2 separate regions of the Homo sapiens genome follow, and region 1 is linked to region 2. The links come from fine-mapping of genetic effects on gene expression. Tissue or cell type: whole blood. Region 2 holds a variant in brackets; the other region holds the start of a gene. All regions are shown on one strand. Distances are between the middles of the regions.

What was found. PIP is the estimated chance that this variant, and not a neighbour inherited with it, causes the effect.
Region 1: it holds the start of LINC03052, and the variant in region 2 is fine-mapped to the expression of LINC03052 in whole blood (INTERVAL, PIP above 0.99).

Annotation. Positions count from the first base shown.
Region 1 is chr2:95,522,788-95,530,892 of GRCh38, forward strand. It overlaps LINC03052 (long intergenic non-protein coding RNA 3052), which reads right to left and starts at 3,967. Exons shown (of 1, transcript NR_182300.1): 1 at 2,086-3,967. It also overlaps the pseudogene ANKRD33BP1. RefSeq lists a silencer at 3,947-4,236 and an enhancer at 4,377-4,506.
Region 2 is chr2:96,078,277-96,086,381 of GRCh38, forward strand. No RefSeq gene overlaps it. Among named protein-coding and RNA genes, the nearest start is that of ADRA2B, 34 kb to the right of the region's middle. The variant A/G (reference allele first, on the strand shown) is at 4,030.

The DNA.
Region 1 (8,105 bases), 560 kb before region 2:
GAAATCTTGAACTTCCTGAGTTTTCTATCCCTAAAAGAAGTTATTTATCAATAGCCTTGTTACAGATTTTTTAATACAATAATTTTGACTTTTCTATAGTACAAAAAGTAAAAATTGATAAAGAGGATAACTTGGAAAAAATTAATATAACAACACTGAGACACATTCTTGACTAGCACTCTATTTCTGTACTAAATTTAGGAGGCATGTAAATGGCACGTTTCCTAAGTGAAATAAGACAGACACACAGAGAAAAATCCTTCATGGTTCCACTCATATTTGAAATCTATTTTTAAAAGTTCAATACATTAAAAAAGGTGGTTACATTGGTGGGAAGGAAATAGGTAAATGAAGGGCAAAAGTTGTAAAGGCGTAGTAGAATAAGTGAATCTGATGTACAACCTGTAGGCATATTTGATAATGTATTGTTTTTGGGAAATATTCTGAGGGACTAGATTTTTGGTGTTCTTATCATAAAAAAGAAGCACAGCTAAGTGATATGATAGATTTGTTAATTTTCTTCATTATAGTAATCATTTCATTATGTATATGTGTCTCAAAACAACATACTTTGCACCTTGAAAATATAAAATAAAATAAATTTAAAAATAAAGGTAATTTTGTTCTTCCATGTCAGCTGAAAATAAGTGAAGACTGGGTCAGTAATAACATTGCTTTGCTGAATTCAGAGAATTCTAATAAAATATTTTTAGTTGGGAAGCTATCTGTATTAAAAAAAATGATCTAAGGCTGGTAACAGTGGCCATACTTATAATCCCAGTGCTTTGGGAGGCCAAGGCAGAAAAATCACTTGAGGCCAGGAGTTTGAGATCAGCCTGGGCAACATAGTAAGACCTTATCTCTACCAAAAATAAAAAGAAAATTAGCCTTGAGTGGTGGTGTGCACCTGTTGTCCCAGCTACTCAGGAGGCTGAGTTGGGAGGATTGCTTGAGACCAGCTGGGAGTTTGAGACTGCAGTGAGTTCTGATTGTGCTATTGCACTCCAGCCTGGGTGACAGAGTGAGAACTTGTCTCAAAAACAGCAACTAATTATTTTGCATAGCCATTTTACCTGAAAGGTATAATTATTTCTTCTACAATTAATAAATCTGCATATGTCTAGGCCAGCTATATCAGGTAGAGCTTGTCCTCTAGTACTTACATCTATAAAACAAATAAGACAGTTATAAGGAGGCTCTAAGAAAAACAATTTTTTCTCATTCTGGACTTTGAGGTCTTAATTCTTTAAACTAATTTTCTGTCTCAATAGTGGATATCACCCTGAAACTTAATTTGTCCAAACACCTCACATAATCTGAAATTTTACAAAACATAAAGTTCATAGGATCAATACATTCTTGTGCCTTAAGTCTCCAGGCATTCAAGGATACTATTATGTGGAAACTCAGGCCTTCTACTGCATTATTGAAGGAGCACATTTGAGACTCACAGCACTTGTTGCTGTTAACAGGTCTGGACAATGAGTGATGTCAGTCCAGATAATTCTGAGGAAGGCTTTCTGCCTTGTTATAAGGAGGATAATCACTGGAGACTCTAGACAAGTTCCCAGTCATCATTCCAGCGTTTAGTTGCTGTTTTTGTAATCTCAGCATTTTTGGAGGCCAAGGCAGGTGGATCACTTTAGGTCAAGAGTTCAAGACTGGCCTGTTCAACATGGTAAAACTTTGTCTTTACCTAAAATACAAAAATTAGCGGGGCATGGTGGTGCACACCTGCAATCCCAGCTACTATGGAGGCTGAGGCAGGATAATCACTTGAACCAAGGAGGCAAAGATAGCAGTGAACCGAGATCATGCCACTGCACTCTAGCCTCGGTGACAGACTGAGACTCTGTCTCAATAAATAAATAAATAAATAAAATCACCTCTTGCATGGAGGGTGAATAAGGAGTATAACATGAGGACGTGTGAGGAAAATATGCATTAGAAGGGAAGGAGAACATACTTAACATGCCAGTGGAAGGTGAAATTCTAAATTATCTGAGAATATTTTTGAGAACTTTGTTTAATTCTCAGTGTAGAAAGATGTACCCTTTGAATGACATTAAAAATTCACTAGAAGAGTGAATAGTTAAAATGTCACATAAGTAACAAGAGTCTCAAAACAAAAAGTGTTCTAAAAGTTTAAAGTCCGTATTTGAGATAGAGGAGAGAATAAATAATAGTTCATTAATTAGTCTTTATTATGTGAAAAGACTTTTCTAAAATTCTTCCATAATAATTGAAGATATAAATTACAATAATTAAAATTTACAAAAGAATAAAAGCATTAAAATAAAGTGTGAAAAATTTAAAAAGGGTAAAGATGAAAATTATTTAATTTTTAATCTCAAAAATCCGAAAGTGATTTTATCAATGTCCTAAGAAAATTAAAATGAAAACAAACTTAATAATGTAAAGAAAGGAGGTTTCTGCCGGGCTGGGGGCGGGAGCTACGGCTTCTCTGGGGACGCGGAAGCGAGAAGCAGGGACCTTGGGGCGCGCCCGGTTTTCCGGGACGGTGCCCCGGCCCCCAGCCCACGCCTCCGGCCGCTGGCATGGTGCTGCTGGCTGGGACCCGGCCGCAGGGTGGCTGGGAGCGCTGCATGACCCCGCCACCGCCGTCCCCACTCCTAGGCGCACAGGTCGAGGAGGACCGCGCTGACTACAAAGAGTTCCAGGGCCCCACACCTGCAGCATAGCCTGGGACGACTCTGTACCCTTTCCAGGACGAGGAGGAGCACGGCGTCGAGGGCTTGGAGAGCGTCCCGGAGGAGGGCGTCCAGGAGGCATGGGGCTGCTGCGGACGCTGGTGCGGCGAGGGGTGAGCGTTGAGAAGGCGCAGGAGACTGACCACAATGGCTGGACCAGCCTTAATGTCGCCTGCTACCACGGCTTTGTGGATATACCGTGGTGGCCTTAGCTGAGTAACCCCACACTGACGTCAACTGGCAGGACAGGGAGGGGAACGCAGCCCTAAATACAGCTGCACAGGCAGGAGCTGCCTCTGGCCCCATGGGCACCGTTGCCTTGGACACTGGCTCTCAGCCTTGTGCTTCCTGGTCAGCATCACGTGGGCTGGTTCATTTGAGCTTTAACACAGATCTGGTGGAAACACAGGCTGCCAGGCCCTGCCCCTGGAGTCTTTCTTTGAATAGGCCTGGGGTGGGGCCCAAGAATGAGCAGAAGAACAGGTTTCCTGGTGAGGCTGATGCCGCTGGCCCAGGGTTCTCACGTTGAGGACCGAGAGCTTTGAGGTTTTCATACCTGATGATGTCCAGGAACCCTTCTCAGTAGGCACTGAAGACCATCAGCAGAATCACAGACCCCAGGAGAGATGTCGTCAGACAGACACAGAGGCATCACCGAATTAAAGTGAAAATGAAGAAAGGAGCTGAGCATCTGTTTCATGACTTTCGTGGCTGTTTTACTAAAGAGGCTATCCTGGCCCAGTCAGGGCACGCTATCATCACCAACTACTTGTTGAACTACGTTCAGGGTCTTGATCTTGAAGGAGGGACGCGTTCGGGTTGAAAGCCGCCATGCAGGGTCGAACGGATCGCATCGGAGCCCTGAGCTAGCAGGGGCGGGTGTCCACGCGAGGGCCCCCGCCGTGGGATGTCGCCAGAGGAGTGGCCACTTATACGTCCGCCTCATGCAGAGGCTCCTGGAGCGCCCCTGCCGGGAGCTGTTGGGGAAAAAGTACCAGCTTGAGCTGCCGCCGCTCCCCGAGAGGCCGCAAAAGCCCGAGGGCTCCAAGAACTGCCTGCAGAGGCTCAGGGACTGCGAGCTGTCCGCGCTGACGCCGCGCTCCATGCGGGGCCCAGAGGACCGGGGCGCCCTGGACCACATGGTCAGGATGACCACGAGCCTCTAACAGCCCCGCCGGGGCCCTCGCGTGCCAGACTATGTGCCCCGAGAGCACCTTGTGCTGGGGGAAGAGGCGGCTGGCGGTGCAGGAAATCCTGGCGGCGCAGGAAATTCCGGCGGCGCGGCGAGGGGTGGGGGGAGGCAGGCGCAGGAGGCGGGCGAAGAGGAGGGCGCAGAGTAGCATAAGCCGCTCGGCCTAGCGGCCGCTGGCTCCACAAAGGCCTCCCCAAGAGCCGGCCTCCCACCTGCCCGGCTGCCGGGGTCCTGGGGCTCCGCCGCCCCCGCCCCGCGGACGGCCAGCCTCCTGCCCCTGCAGTGCCTGCAGCAGAGCAGCTTGGGGCCCAGCGTGGTGGTGCCCAGGTCCGCCTCAGCAAGGTGCCCGCGCCCACCTTCCAACCCAAAAGGCCGGCGCGGAAGGGCAGCATAAAGGCAGCGGCCACCTGCGGATACCCAAGTGGCCTTACAAGGTGGCCAAGGAGGAGAAACGGGAGGCGGAGGAGGCCGAGAAGAGGCGCCAGGCCAAGGTGCAGGAGAAGCGCCCGCCGCCCTGGAAGAAGAGGACGTGAGAGTCCGCGGGTGCTTGGCACGGGGTTTGAGGGCTGGGTGAGGCCGCGGGGCTGGGCACCATGGCAGCTCTCGGGACCACCGGGCAGCGCGCGTTTCCACGCTGTCTCTCTAGGATGCTCCCAGAAAGGGGCTGGGGGAGCCACATCGATTCGCTTCACACCAGCCACCCTAGCAATCAGTACACCTAGGGGGCATGTTCCCTAAAAGGCTCCCTTTAGAGAACCTCAATTAAGATTTTTTTAAAGATTAATTTATTAGGCCAGGCGCGGTGGCTCACGCCTGTAATCCCAGCACTTTGGGAGGCCGAGGCGGGCGGATCACCTGAGGTTAGGAGTTTGAGACTAGCCTGACCAACATGGAGAAACCCCATCTCTACTAAAAATACAAAATTAGCCGGGCGTGGTGGCACATGCCTGTAATCCCAACTACTCGGGAGGCTGAGGCAGGAGAATCGCTTGAACCCTGGAGGCAGAGGTGGCAGGGAGCCAAGATGGCGCCATTGCACTTCAGCCTAGGCAACAAGAGCCAAACTCCGTCTCAATTAAAAAAAAATCAATTTATTAAAGGATATTTTCTGTGTAATTTTGTATTTTTAATTGTTGTCCAATTTGCCAAGTTTTACAAGTGATAGGGTCCCTTGTATCCAAGGAAGTTTTTATACACTTACCTGAAGACCTTTTATTTAAAACACTGTTTCCAGCAATAAATATTTATGATATCTGTAGGACTTTACACAGAAATCATGGGATTCTCTCCTTTTTGGGCTGTTTGCTTTGGTCTTCTCATCATGGGTGGATGTTTTTATTAATTAGATTAAGTGATGCCGGATATTTCTATTTGATGGAGGGATTGACTGGTTCAGCCACATGATCAAGTGAGACAGAGAGATCAGATTTTATTGTATCTTTTTAAAAAGTATTATCCAATACAGTCATATATTGAGGAAAAACATTTATCGTCAAATTATAAAACAATGCAGAGATAGGCATGTCTGTATTGCTAGAATTAAACTCATTTTAAGCAAGGAGTTTTAGATAAACTGTATACAAAAATCTTTAACATATTAAAATAGACATGAGAAAAATGTGTCATTTGATAAAATGGGGGAAATGTAATAAATGATTACCAGAAATATAAAATTAAGCCGTATATGCTCTTAAGTAAATCGAATCTAGGCATCCTTAAAATGTAAAAAAGGATGCAACAAGAGTAAGGAGCCCAGAATGATGTAAATTACAGGAATGGGGTGTAATGTAACCTCTAGAGGAGGTGATGTTTAGAAGAAGCAAAGAGAATGCAATGAGAAGCAAACTTGTTTTAGGCAAATTCTCCTGGAGTGGACCAGGCAGCCCCCTCTTCCAGACTCAGTTCCAGAGATTCCCTTATGTGGGTATTTGTTTTATTATTCCTTTGAGGACTGCATTTGGTGTTTAGTTCATCCTCATGTGGACCCTATGGAATTTCCAAGATGCGGGGCCTTAGCACTGTGGCACCTTCCTGCCACACGTACATAATTCACAGCATTACCAAGTCACCACAAGCCCCACGCTCACCTCTGTCAGCCCAGGACCCAGCCAGGCAGTGCCACGTGGTCTCCCAGGCTCGCTTCTCCAAGCCGAACTGCGAAAGTTATTGAGGCACTGGCCCAGGGAACTGAGCCTTGGGCCTGTCCTAAAGCTCCATAGGTGACTGCACTGCAGCCCACATGGAGAGCTGCAGCTCTAACACAGGGATTTTGAGAGGCCTCAGTGCCATTTAAGTGGCACTTCCAGGACACCCATCCTGAGCTCCCACAAAGGGCGCCACCTTCCCAAGAACGTCTAATTGTCATTGGAACAGCCAGTGTCAGGCAGCTTCTGCTCAGGCTGATGTGGCGTCTGACCCTTGGTGGGTTGCCAGACATTCCTTCCTGTTTCTGCCATGGGAAGTTGGCACTGGGAATGGTATGGAGCCCCCACTTCTACCCTGAGCCTTGGGTGTCTGCTGCTTCCAGGTGAAAAATGGACATTTCTGATACTGCCCAGCCACTACGGCACCACAACCCATGCTCATAGTCTCCAGGGATGTGTAGAACGGCAATGGCAGGACAGCAAACAACTGGCGATTTCCCCAGGTCCCACGCTCTTGCGGAGTGAGTATGTTGGGTCCCTGTCCCCAGTGTGTTCCAGCCTTACCCAGGTGCACAGAGTACCCTGGGGCCAGCACAGGGCTTGTCCAGTGATGCTCCTGGTGTTCACAAAATGGCTCCAGAGATACCTGCATTTTGAAAAGCCTGCCGAGCCAGCAAGTGTAGGGCAGGACCCGGATTTCTTTGGCAAATCTGAAGGTGAGAGGGCCACTTGCCTGCTGAGTAGAAGCTGCCTTTACCTGGCCAGTGTATGCAACTTGAGAGAAAATGACAGCTGCATGGGGCGCTCTGGTGGGACTGGGAAGTCTGATCTTCCGGGGAGCTGTAGATAGTGAATTTCAAGTTGACAGCTACCTTCTCAGGGATTTATATATAAATATAGTTAGAGGAAAAGCTAAAATCTATTTTACTAGTTTTTAGTGTTTGTGTAAAGTAAGCTTAAACTGGACAGAATAAACATTTCTCAGACAATGTTGATGCTACTGATTACAAGTTAGATGGCTGGAGCTTGCCCCTTGGTGGAGAATTTCTTGGTGATTGGAGACTGGGGACTCTGGCAGCAGAAGTGGCTTTATGGTGGGTGTGAAGTTGCTTCTGCCCCTCTGAGTGGCCTCTCATGGATGTGAATGCGTGTATTGACACCAGTGAAATCCACCTCCGTGTGCGTGGAGGTGGCTGATGAGAACACAAGTGAGCCAGTCCTGGTTCTTCCCTCCAGAACCGGTCACTCCCAGTCTGACGTTGGAGCATGTGAACTAAGAGTGACATTTTTTTCTACTTGCTTCTGTGAATAAAGTGTTCTACAGTCAGCCAGCACTAAACACCAGAAAGGAGGAGGGAACAGCGTGGAGCAATTCATCTGGAATTACCTCGGTGTGCAGAGGCTGTCCCTTGGCTCCACTTGGGATAAACATTGTGAAACATCGTGGGCCTCTTTCTTCTCAAGCTCCTCCTGACAGCCTCCTGGCAACACTAGAGGCCTCAAGACTATGGAGATCAGAATTGCAATGGCTTTGTCATCTCAGCATTGACCACTCCTGAGACCCAAGGTTCCTCCTGGGAGCAGGAGACAAGGAGTTTGTGATGTTGGATGGAAAATAGGATATATGAATGCAGAAGGGCTGTGCTGGACCCCTCTTTTCGCTTCTCTCCCTGCTGTCAGCAGTGTCTCTGGCATGGAGGCGAATCTGTTGTGGGTGAAACAGAAGCCCCTGGGGTAGGACCAGACCCCAGGCCTGAAAAGGATGCAAAGCCTGCTGTTTCAGGCTGTCAGGAAGAATCGTGGGTACCGAGTGATTATGATGAAATGCAACCCAGAGAGGAAATGAATGGGCCCTCACTAAGAAGTGGGTCTGACATGTCTCTGGCAGCCCACCGGCAAGAGCACGACATGCCCTGCAGCCCCACCATCCACACTACATGATGTGGGAGGGCTGTCTGTTCATTCTTACACTGGGGACCCAAGCCTGCTCTGAGGAGTGAGTCACAGCCCTGACGTGCGCCTTGCATTACTGTTTCCTGAGATGTGCCCGGAGACTCA
Region 2 (8,105 bases):
AGTGTTCTCTCTGATTATATTTTCTGGAAGAGACTGTAGAATATTGATATAATTTCTTCCTTGAATTTTTGGTAGAATTCACCAGTGAATCTATCTGGGCCTGGTACTTTATGTTTTGAAAGGTTATTAATTATTGGCTTGGTTTCTTTAACACAGATAGACCTGTTCGGATTGTTTTTTTTTGTTTGTTTTTTTTTTTGTTTTTTTGAGACAGGATCTCACTCTGTTACCCAAGCTGGTGTAGCACAATCACCTCTCACTGCAGCCTTGACATCCTGTGCTCAAGCAATCCTCCCACCTCTGCCTCCCAAGTAGCTGGGACAACAGGTGCGCACTAACACACCCATCAAATTTTTTATGTTTTGTAGAGACAGGGTCTCATTATGTTGCCCAGGCTGGTCTCAAACTCCTGGCCTCAAGAGATCCTCCTACCTCAGCCTCCCAAAGTGCTGGGATTACATGCATGAACCACCATCCTTCAGCATAGATTGTCTATTTCTTCTTGAATGAATTTTGACAGAATGTATATTTCAAGGAATTTTTCCATTTCACCTAGGTTATCAGATTTGTGGGCATCAAGTTTTTCATAATAGTCCTTTATGATCCTTTCAGTGTCCATAAAAGGCCATTAGTGATGTCACCCTTTCATTTTTCATATTAGTAATTTGTGTCTTCCCTCTTTTTTTCTTAGCCTGGCTGGAGGCTTATCAGTTTCACCTACCTTCAAATAAACAGATTTTGATTTTGCTGATTTTCTCTACTGATTTCCTGTTTTCAATTCATTGATATCTATTCTAATTTTTATTATTTACTTTCTTCTGCTTACTTTGGATTTAATTTACTCTTTTTTCTACTTTCCTAAGGCGGAAGCTTAGATTACTGATCTTCGATATTCTTTTCTAATATAGAATCTAATAATCACTTTAATTCATTCAATGTTATAAATTTCCCCCAATCACTGCTTTTGCTACATCCCACACATTTTTATTAGTTGTATTTTCATTTCCATTAGTTCAAAACATTGCTTAATTTCTCTATGTTTCTTCTTTGACCCAGATATTACTCAGAAGTGTATTGTTCAATCTCCAGATATTTTGATGGCTTCCAGCTATCTTCCTTTTATTGATTTGAGGTTTAATTCTGTTGTGGTCTGACAGCAGATAGTATATGATGTATATTCTTTAAATTTATTAAGGTGTGTTTCATGGCCTAAAATGTGGTATCTTGGTGAATGTTCCATGTGAGCTTGAGAAGAATGTGTAATTTTCTGTTGTTGGATGAAGTAGTCTATAGATGTCCATTTTATCCAGTTGATTGCTGGTGTTGTTGAGTTCAACTGTGTTCTTACTGATTTTCTGCTTGTTCCGTCTGCCGATTTCTGATCAACGAGTGTTGAAGTCTTCAGCTTTAGTAGTGGATTCATCTGTTTCTCCTTGCAGTTCTGTCAATTTTTCCCTTACATATTTCTATGCTCTGTTGTTAGGTGCATACACACATTCAGGATTGTTATGTCTTCTTGGAGAACTGACTCCTTTTTCTTATGTAATGCCCCTCTTTATCTCTGGTAACTTTCCTTGCTCTTTAAGTCTGCTCTGCCTGAATTAATACAGATATTCTGGGGGGTGTTTTAGTTAAATATTTGTATGGTGTATCTTTCTCCATCACTTTAATTTTAATCTAGATGCATCTTTATATTTAGAATGGGTTTCTTGTAGACTACATATAGCTGGGTCTGGTTTTTTTAATCTACTCTGATAATCTCTTTTATTTTATTTTTCTTTCCACCTTTTATATTAGGTTCAACGGGTACATGTGAAGGTTTATTATTACATGGGTAAATTCATGTCATGGGAGTTTGGTGTACAGGACATTTTGTCACCCAGGTAATAAGCAGATTACCCAATAGGTAGTTTTTCAATCTTCACCCTCCTCCCAGCCTCCACCCTTAAGTAGCCCCCGGATGTCTGTTGTTCCCTTCTATGTGTCTGTGTATACTCAGTGTTTAGCTCCCATTGATAAGTGAGAACATGCAGTATTTGGTTTTCTGTTTCTGTGTTAATTCACTTAAGATGATGGCCTCCAGCTCTATCCATGTTGCTGCAAAGGACATTGATTACATTCTTTTATATGGCTCTGTGGTATTCCATAGTGTATATATAGTCTATCATTGATGGGCATCTAGGTTGATTCCATGTCTTTGCTATTGTGAATAGTGCTGCGATGAACATATGCCTGCATGTGTCTTTACAGTAGAATGGTTTACATAACCTTGGGTATACACCCAGGAATGGAATTGCTGGGTTGAATGGTAGTTCTGTTTTAAGTTCTTTGATAAATCTCCAGACTACTTTCCACAGTGGCTGAACTAATTTATGTTCTGACCAGCAGTGTATAAGCATTCTCTTTCCTCCACAACCTCTCCAGCATCTGTTATTTTTTGACTTTTTAATAATAGCCATTCTGAGTGGTATGAGATGGTATCTCATTGTGGTTTTGATTTGATTATCGATATTGAGTATTTTTTCTATGCTTGTTGCCAGTGCAGATGTCTTTTGAGAAGTGTCTGTTCATCGCTTCTCGGCCTTTTGGCTAAGATCAAGTGAGAAGTGTCTGTTCATGTTCTTTGCCCATTTTTTAATGGGGTTGTTTGTTTTTTGCTTGTGGGTTTAAGTTCCATATAGATTCAAGACATTAGATTTTTGTTAGATGCATAGGCTGTAAACATTTTCTTTCATTCTATGGGTTGTCTGTTTACCCTGTTGATAGTTTCTTTTGCTTTGCAGAATCTCTGTCTTAGTATATTTACACCATTGGCATTCAAAATTATTATTGACATAGATTAATATCTACCATACCCGTTACTGTTTTTCTATTTGTTGCCTTGTTATTTGTTCCTCTATTTTTCCTCCCACTCTTTTTCTGCCTTTTGTGGTTTTTAATTGAGCATTTTATATGACCAAAAAATAAATAGTCAGCATATTTCTGCTATGGTCTGAATATGTTCCCCCAAAATTCATATGTTGAAATGTAACCACCAATATGATAAGAAATGAGGCCCTTAGGAGGTGATTAAGTCATGAGGGTGGAGCCCTCAATAATGGATTAGTGCTTTAACAAAATAGGTGAGAGGGGGCTATTCATCTTTTCCACCACGCAAGGACACAGCAGGAAGGTACCACCTTGGAAGCAGAGAGTGAGCCCTTATCAGACACCAAATCTGCTCTTCCCTTGATCTTAGACTTCCCAGCCTCCAGAACTATGAAAAATAAATTTGTATTATTTATAAATTATGCAGTCTGAGGTATTTTGTTATAGCAGCCCAAGCGCACTAAGACAACTTCCTTTTTAAAAAAAATACTTTTCTTCTTATTTTTTTCACTTGTTTCAGTATTTTCCCTAGATTTGCAGTATACGTCTACAACTAATGCAAATCCATCTTCAAATACCAAATACTACTTCATGGGTTGTACCAAGTATCTTATAATAACAAAATAATCCCAATTCCTGCCTCCTGCCTCTTATGTCTGCTCTCATTTATTTTACTCATACATAAGCATACTTAAGTATATGTTTCTATGTGTATAATATACATATACGATTAAATAATTGAATATATTGTTGCTATTATTATTTTGAACAAACTGTTACCTGTTAGATCAATTCAGAATAAAAAAAAAACACTTTCTATTTTATCCTCCCTCATTCCTTCTTCAGTGCTCTCTTTCTTTATATAGATCCAAGTTTCTGACTTACATGTTTTTCTTTTTCTTTGAAGAACTTTCAATATTTCTTACAAGGCACGTGTACTGACAATAAATTTCCTCAATTTTCGTTTGTCTGAGAAAGTCTGTATTTCTTCTTCACAGAGAGTTGTGGATGGAGCCCCTGCATCGCAGGATGAGAGGCCAGACCAGAGCAAGGCAGAGGATGCCATGTTCCTTCTCACCAACACGTGCTCCTCTCAAGCTGCCAACGGGGCGGCTGCACAACCAGAGTTCCAAATTACAAGCATGTTTTCTGGGAGGGGCC[A/G]CAAGGTAGACAACCCCCCACCTCCGGCAGCTGCCCAGGCCCTAAGCCCTGGAGTCCTGGCTCGGGCTATTACTGACCATCCCTGTGATCCTGGGCAAGAGGTCTATCTGCAGGGGAGGAGGTGCTGAACTAACACACTTGTGCGTAACTCAGGTGGCCCAGGTGGGCCTGCATCTCCAGGCCTTTCCAGGCAAAAGGTAAGAGTATTGGCTTGTGCGGCTCCCGTGACCCACACAAGGTCGTACCTTGGTGCCTTGCCATGAGCAGGCAGTCCTGCGAGTGCCACACTTCTTCCAAGGCCTGAGGTTTGGACAGCCTGGGTGCTCACTCTTTGCTGATCACTTCACAAAGCTATCAGATCCATCCCGCCTTGGTAATAGCTCTTCTCTCAAGGATGTCCTTCCAGCCTGCAAAATGCAAGGCTCCAAGCCTGTGTCCTGGCCAGGCCGGGGTCCAGTCTTGGACTCATACTTACCCCAGCCCACGGCTAGTCTGCAAGGGGACAAAATGGAGAGAGGGCCAAGACACCTGCCTGTCCCCCAGGACCTCTTTGCTTGGCCAGCTGAGGTCATCAGGTCATCGATTGGAAGGCCAGCTCTCCTCTCCACCTCCCATTCTGGCAGCACTTCACAGTTTACAAAGGAAGCTTCTCCACTCCCAAGAGTGTAACTGACCTCATAACTTCCTTAGAGAGGAGGGAAGCTGCTTGCCCAAGACCACACCACTTATAAGGAACAGGCAGGGACAGGGACTCACATCTCCTGTCTCTCCGAGCCCAGTGTAGCTTACACAGCTGCCCTCCCTCCCACCCCACTCATGGGCAGCTCTCAGGCTGCCTTAGGTGGCCAGGAAGCCCACCTGCCTCTTCCCCTAGTCCTGGGAGGGCCACCACATCCTGGGGTCAACATCCAATGAATTTGGCAGGCACTGTGCAGTGTCACTTTAATTAGGAGGCTGATGAGATGGAGGCTGCCATAGCTTTAGCAGTGGACTTTTCCTTAGTCCTGCAGACCCTCCCTACTCCAGCTCAGCCCAAGGCAGAGCCTGCTCGGTCAGCCACTGGCCTCCAGCCTGGCAGTGTCAGGAGGAGGGGAAGTCAGGCCTGGCGCCGGGGCTGGCCAGCCAGGGGCCAAGGACTGCAGAGCTGCTCACGTCCGCACATATCTAAGCATCCACATCCCATGACCTGCTTCCAAGGGCCAAGGCCCCCACCCCTCCACTGGGGACAGCTGCCTTCTGTGCTCAGCCAGAGGTGGCCCAAAAATTCTGGCTGGCCTAGCCTCGTGCCCCAACCTCAGCAGAGAGGCATGCAGAAGGCCACGTCTGCCAAGCCCTCCCAGGCCCTGCCCTACCCCAGGAGTGCATAGTCAGAGGCCATGCACATTCAAATCCTGACCCCTGGACACTGCTGCCCCATCTGGGCTCCTGCCACCCCCAATCCCTGCAAGACCCTAGGGAGAGAGGCTCACCCTCCCTCTCTAGCCTCAGAGCCATTCCCCACTTCCTCCCTCTTCCTTCCTTAGTGCCTGAGTTAGGCGCATGCCTGTCACCACCCACACTGACCTCCAGGCCCCATGAGGGGCCACTAACATAATTTATGTTCATTTTCTCTTCATCTCTCTTCCCATGGATGTCCTTGAATACACGTGCATCCTCAAAACTGTCTAGTAGCCAAAACCGGGGATAATGGATGAGCACGAGTTCTAACCCAGCAGTCACAAAGGCCTCCAGAAGGGCCTCGCTCCCAGGAGCCATAGGATTTGGGGCTCATGGCCATCATATCTAGATTCCAGGAGAGGAAGCTGCCCTGATACCCAGGGATGCTGCAGCAGGTGCAGGCGCTGTTGGGATATTGCTCACCAAGTCCCAGCCACGGGGTAAGGGAGAAATGCCCTCTGCCCCCGGGTTGTCTGCGCTGTTTCTGAGTCCAGCTCTGGCTTGACCGCATGAATCACACATCACGTCCCTGACCGGGTACCCTGTAGCCACCCTCAAGCAGCCATCTCTCCTGAAAGTGCAGGACACCCCCTGGGTTCCACCCCATCATCCCGCCCTTGCTTCTTGCTTGTGAGAGTTCTCACCGTGTGTGTGTGTCTGCCTTTGTCCTGTGCTGTGGGTTTTGTAGACCACCCTGGATGCCCTCTGGCTGGGTTTGATAGATCCTCTCAGCAAGCCTCATGCTTTGCACTGTCACAGTGGCGCCCTTTCCACCAGCCTGAATATGCCAGGGGGCGTCTACCATGTCTGAACAAACAAATGAACAAATGAACAGACCACGGTGTGAGCCTGAGAAGTGGTAGGGGCAGCCTCTGGCCAGCAGGCCCCTCCAGGCGGTCGTGGAGAGTGGGCACCTCCTCCAGGCCCAGGGCCTCCCTCCCTGGCAGCCGGGGCCACCTGCACTGCTTTGGCTAATCCGGCAAACCCTAAGGGAGGCCCAGAGGTGGAGCAGCGACCACAGCAGCCTGCCCTGAGGACCCCGCTCTGGTTTGCCGCTGCCTGCAACCAGCCAGGGGCTGCTGGGCTGGAGGAGGCAAGGAGGAGGGCGAGCCTAAAGGTGCACTCAGCAGGGGCTTCATGAAGAACGAGGGACTGAGGTGGGCCTTGGGGTATAGGTGGGGTTTAGACGATGGACGTGTGGAATGGAGGAGAAAGGGGAGAAGCTTCTAGTTACAGGCAATTGTGTGTGCACAGGCCCAGCACAGGGGAAGCTCAAGCCACCAGGGAGTGGCCCTGAGTCTGTTTTTGGAGTGTCTAGATGTGGGAAGAGGAGGTGCAGGTGCTGAGGCTGCAAAGGCAGGAAGACCCCTGGGGGACAGTGCCAGGCGCCCAGCTAGGCTGGGCAACCCAGACTCTCCTTTTGGTATGAGGCCAAGTTTCACCCCTGAGCAGCCAGGAAGAGAGTGGAGCCAGGCACTTTCTCAGGACAGGAAGCATTGCTGACCGCCAGTGCCAGGCGCCCAGCTAGGCTGGGCAACCCAGACTCTCCTTTTGGTATGAGGCCAAGTTTCACCCCTGAGCAGCCAGGAAGAGAGTGGAGCCAGGCACTTTCTCAGGACAGGAAGCATTGCTGACCGCCAGCAATGCAGGCCTGGGCTGCAGAGGGAGGGCTGGGACTGAGGGGCAGGGGTGGGGATGGTGATGGCAGAGGCCCCAGAAGAGGGTCTGACTGCCCATGGGAAGAATCAAGTGGATGTGGGAAAGCAACCAAAGAGAGACCCTGGGAACCCGTCATGCAAGGGGCAGAAGGTGAGAGAGATGGAGATGTGGTCAGGAGGCCAAAGAAACAGGCAGGGATGCCCAGTGAAGAGGGGTTCCTGGAAGCAGAAAGGGCAGCATCTCCATGGGGCTGCTGAGAGGCCCTGGGGTTTGGAGATTGGAGGTCACTGTGGGCAGCGGGGGTGGCTGATGACGCAGACCGCGCTTCTCTCTGTGAGGATGGACGGGGGCAGAGGAAAGGGAAGGGCTCTGTTTGCCTGCCTGGATCAAAGAGGCCAGGTCTGCTTGAGATGAGGAGCGAGGCATCAGAAAGGCAGAGAGGCAGGAGGGACCAAGGAGAGTTCACAGGGAAGCCCAAGGGCCAGGGCCAAGGGATGGAGGGACGGGCCGTCCAGGTGCTGGGCTGCTGGGTAGCTGGGCCCTCCCCACTTCCTCCTCACCCAGCTCCACCTCTGGGGATCCAGGCCTTCCACAGCTGCAGGGGAGTACCTGGATACCACCCATCAGGCTTTATGTCCCTGCAAGTAGGTGGGGGGCACAGGCAGAAGTCACCTGGGGGAAGGTTCGATATCAGGCCTGGGACAGGCTGCAGGGCTCCACAGGCCTGAGCTCCAGAGCCGCTGCCCCAGGATGCGCAGAACCCAGTGCGAGCTCAGATCCTGTGGTCAGTCTGTTCATTCATTTATTCACTGACTCATTCACTCTTCATTTCCCAGCTCAGCCTGCCCCATGCACTGGGCTCTATGCTGGGATGGGGCCCTTGAGGAGCCACAGTCTGGTGGACACATAGGCCTGTAACCAAATCCTGGCCACAGAGGGTGATGATGCTGCAGGAACCCAGGGTGGCTCAGAGTGGAGCA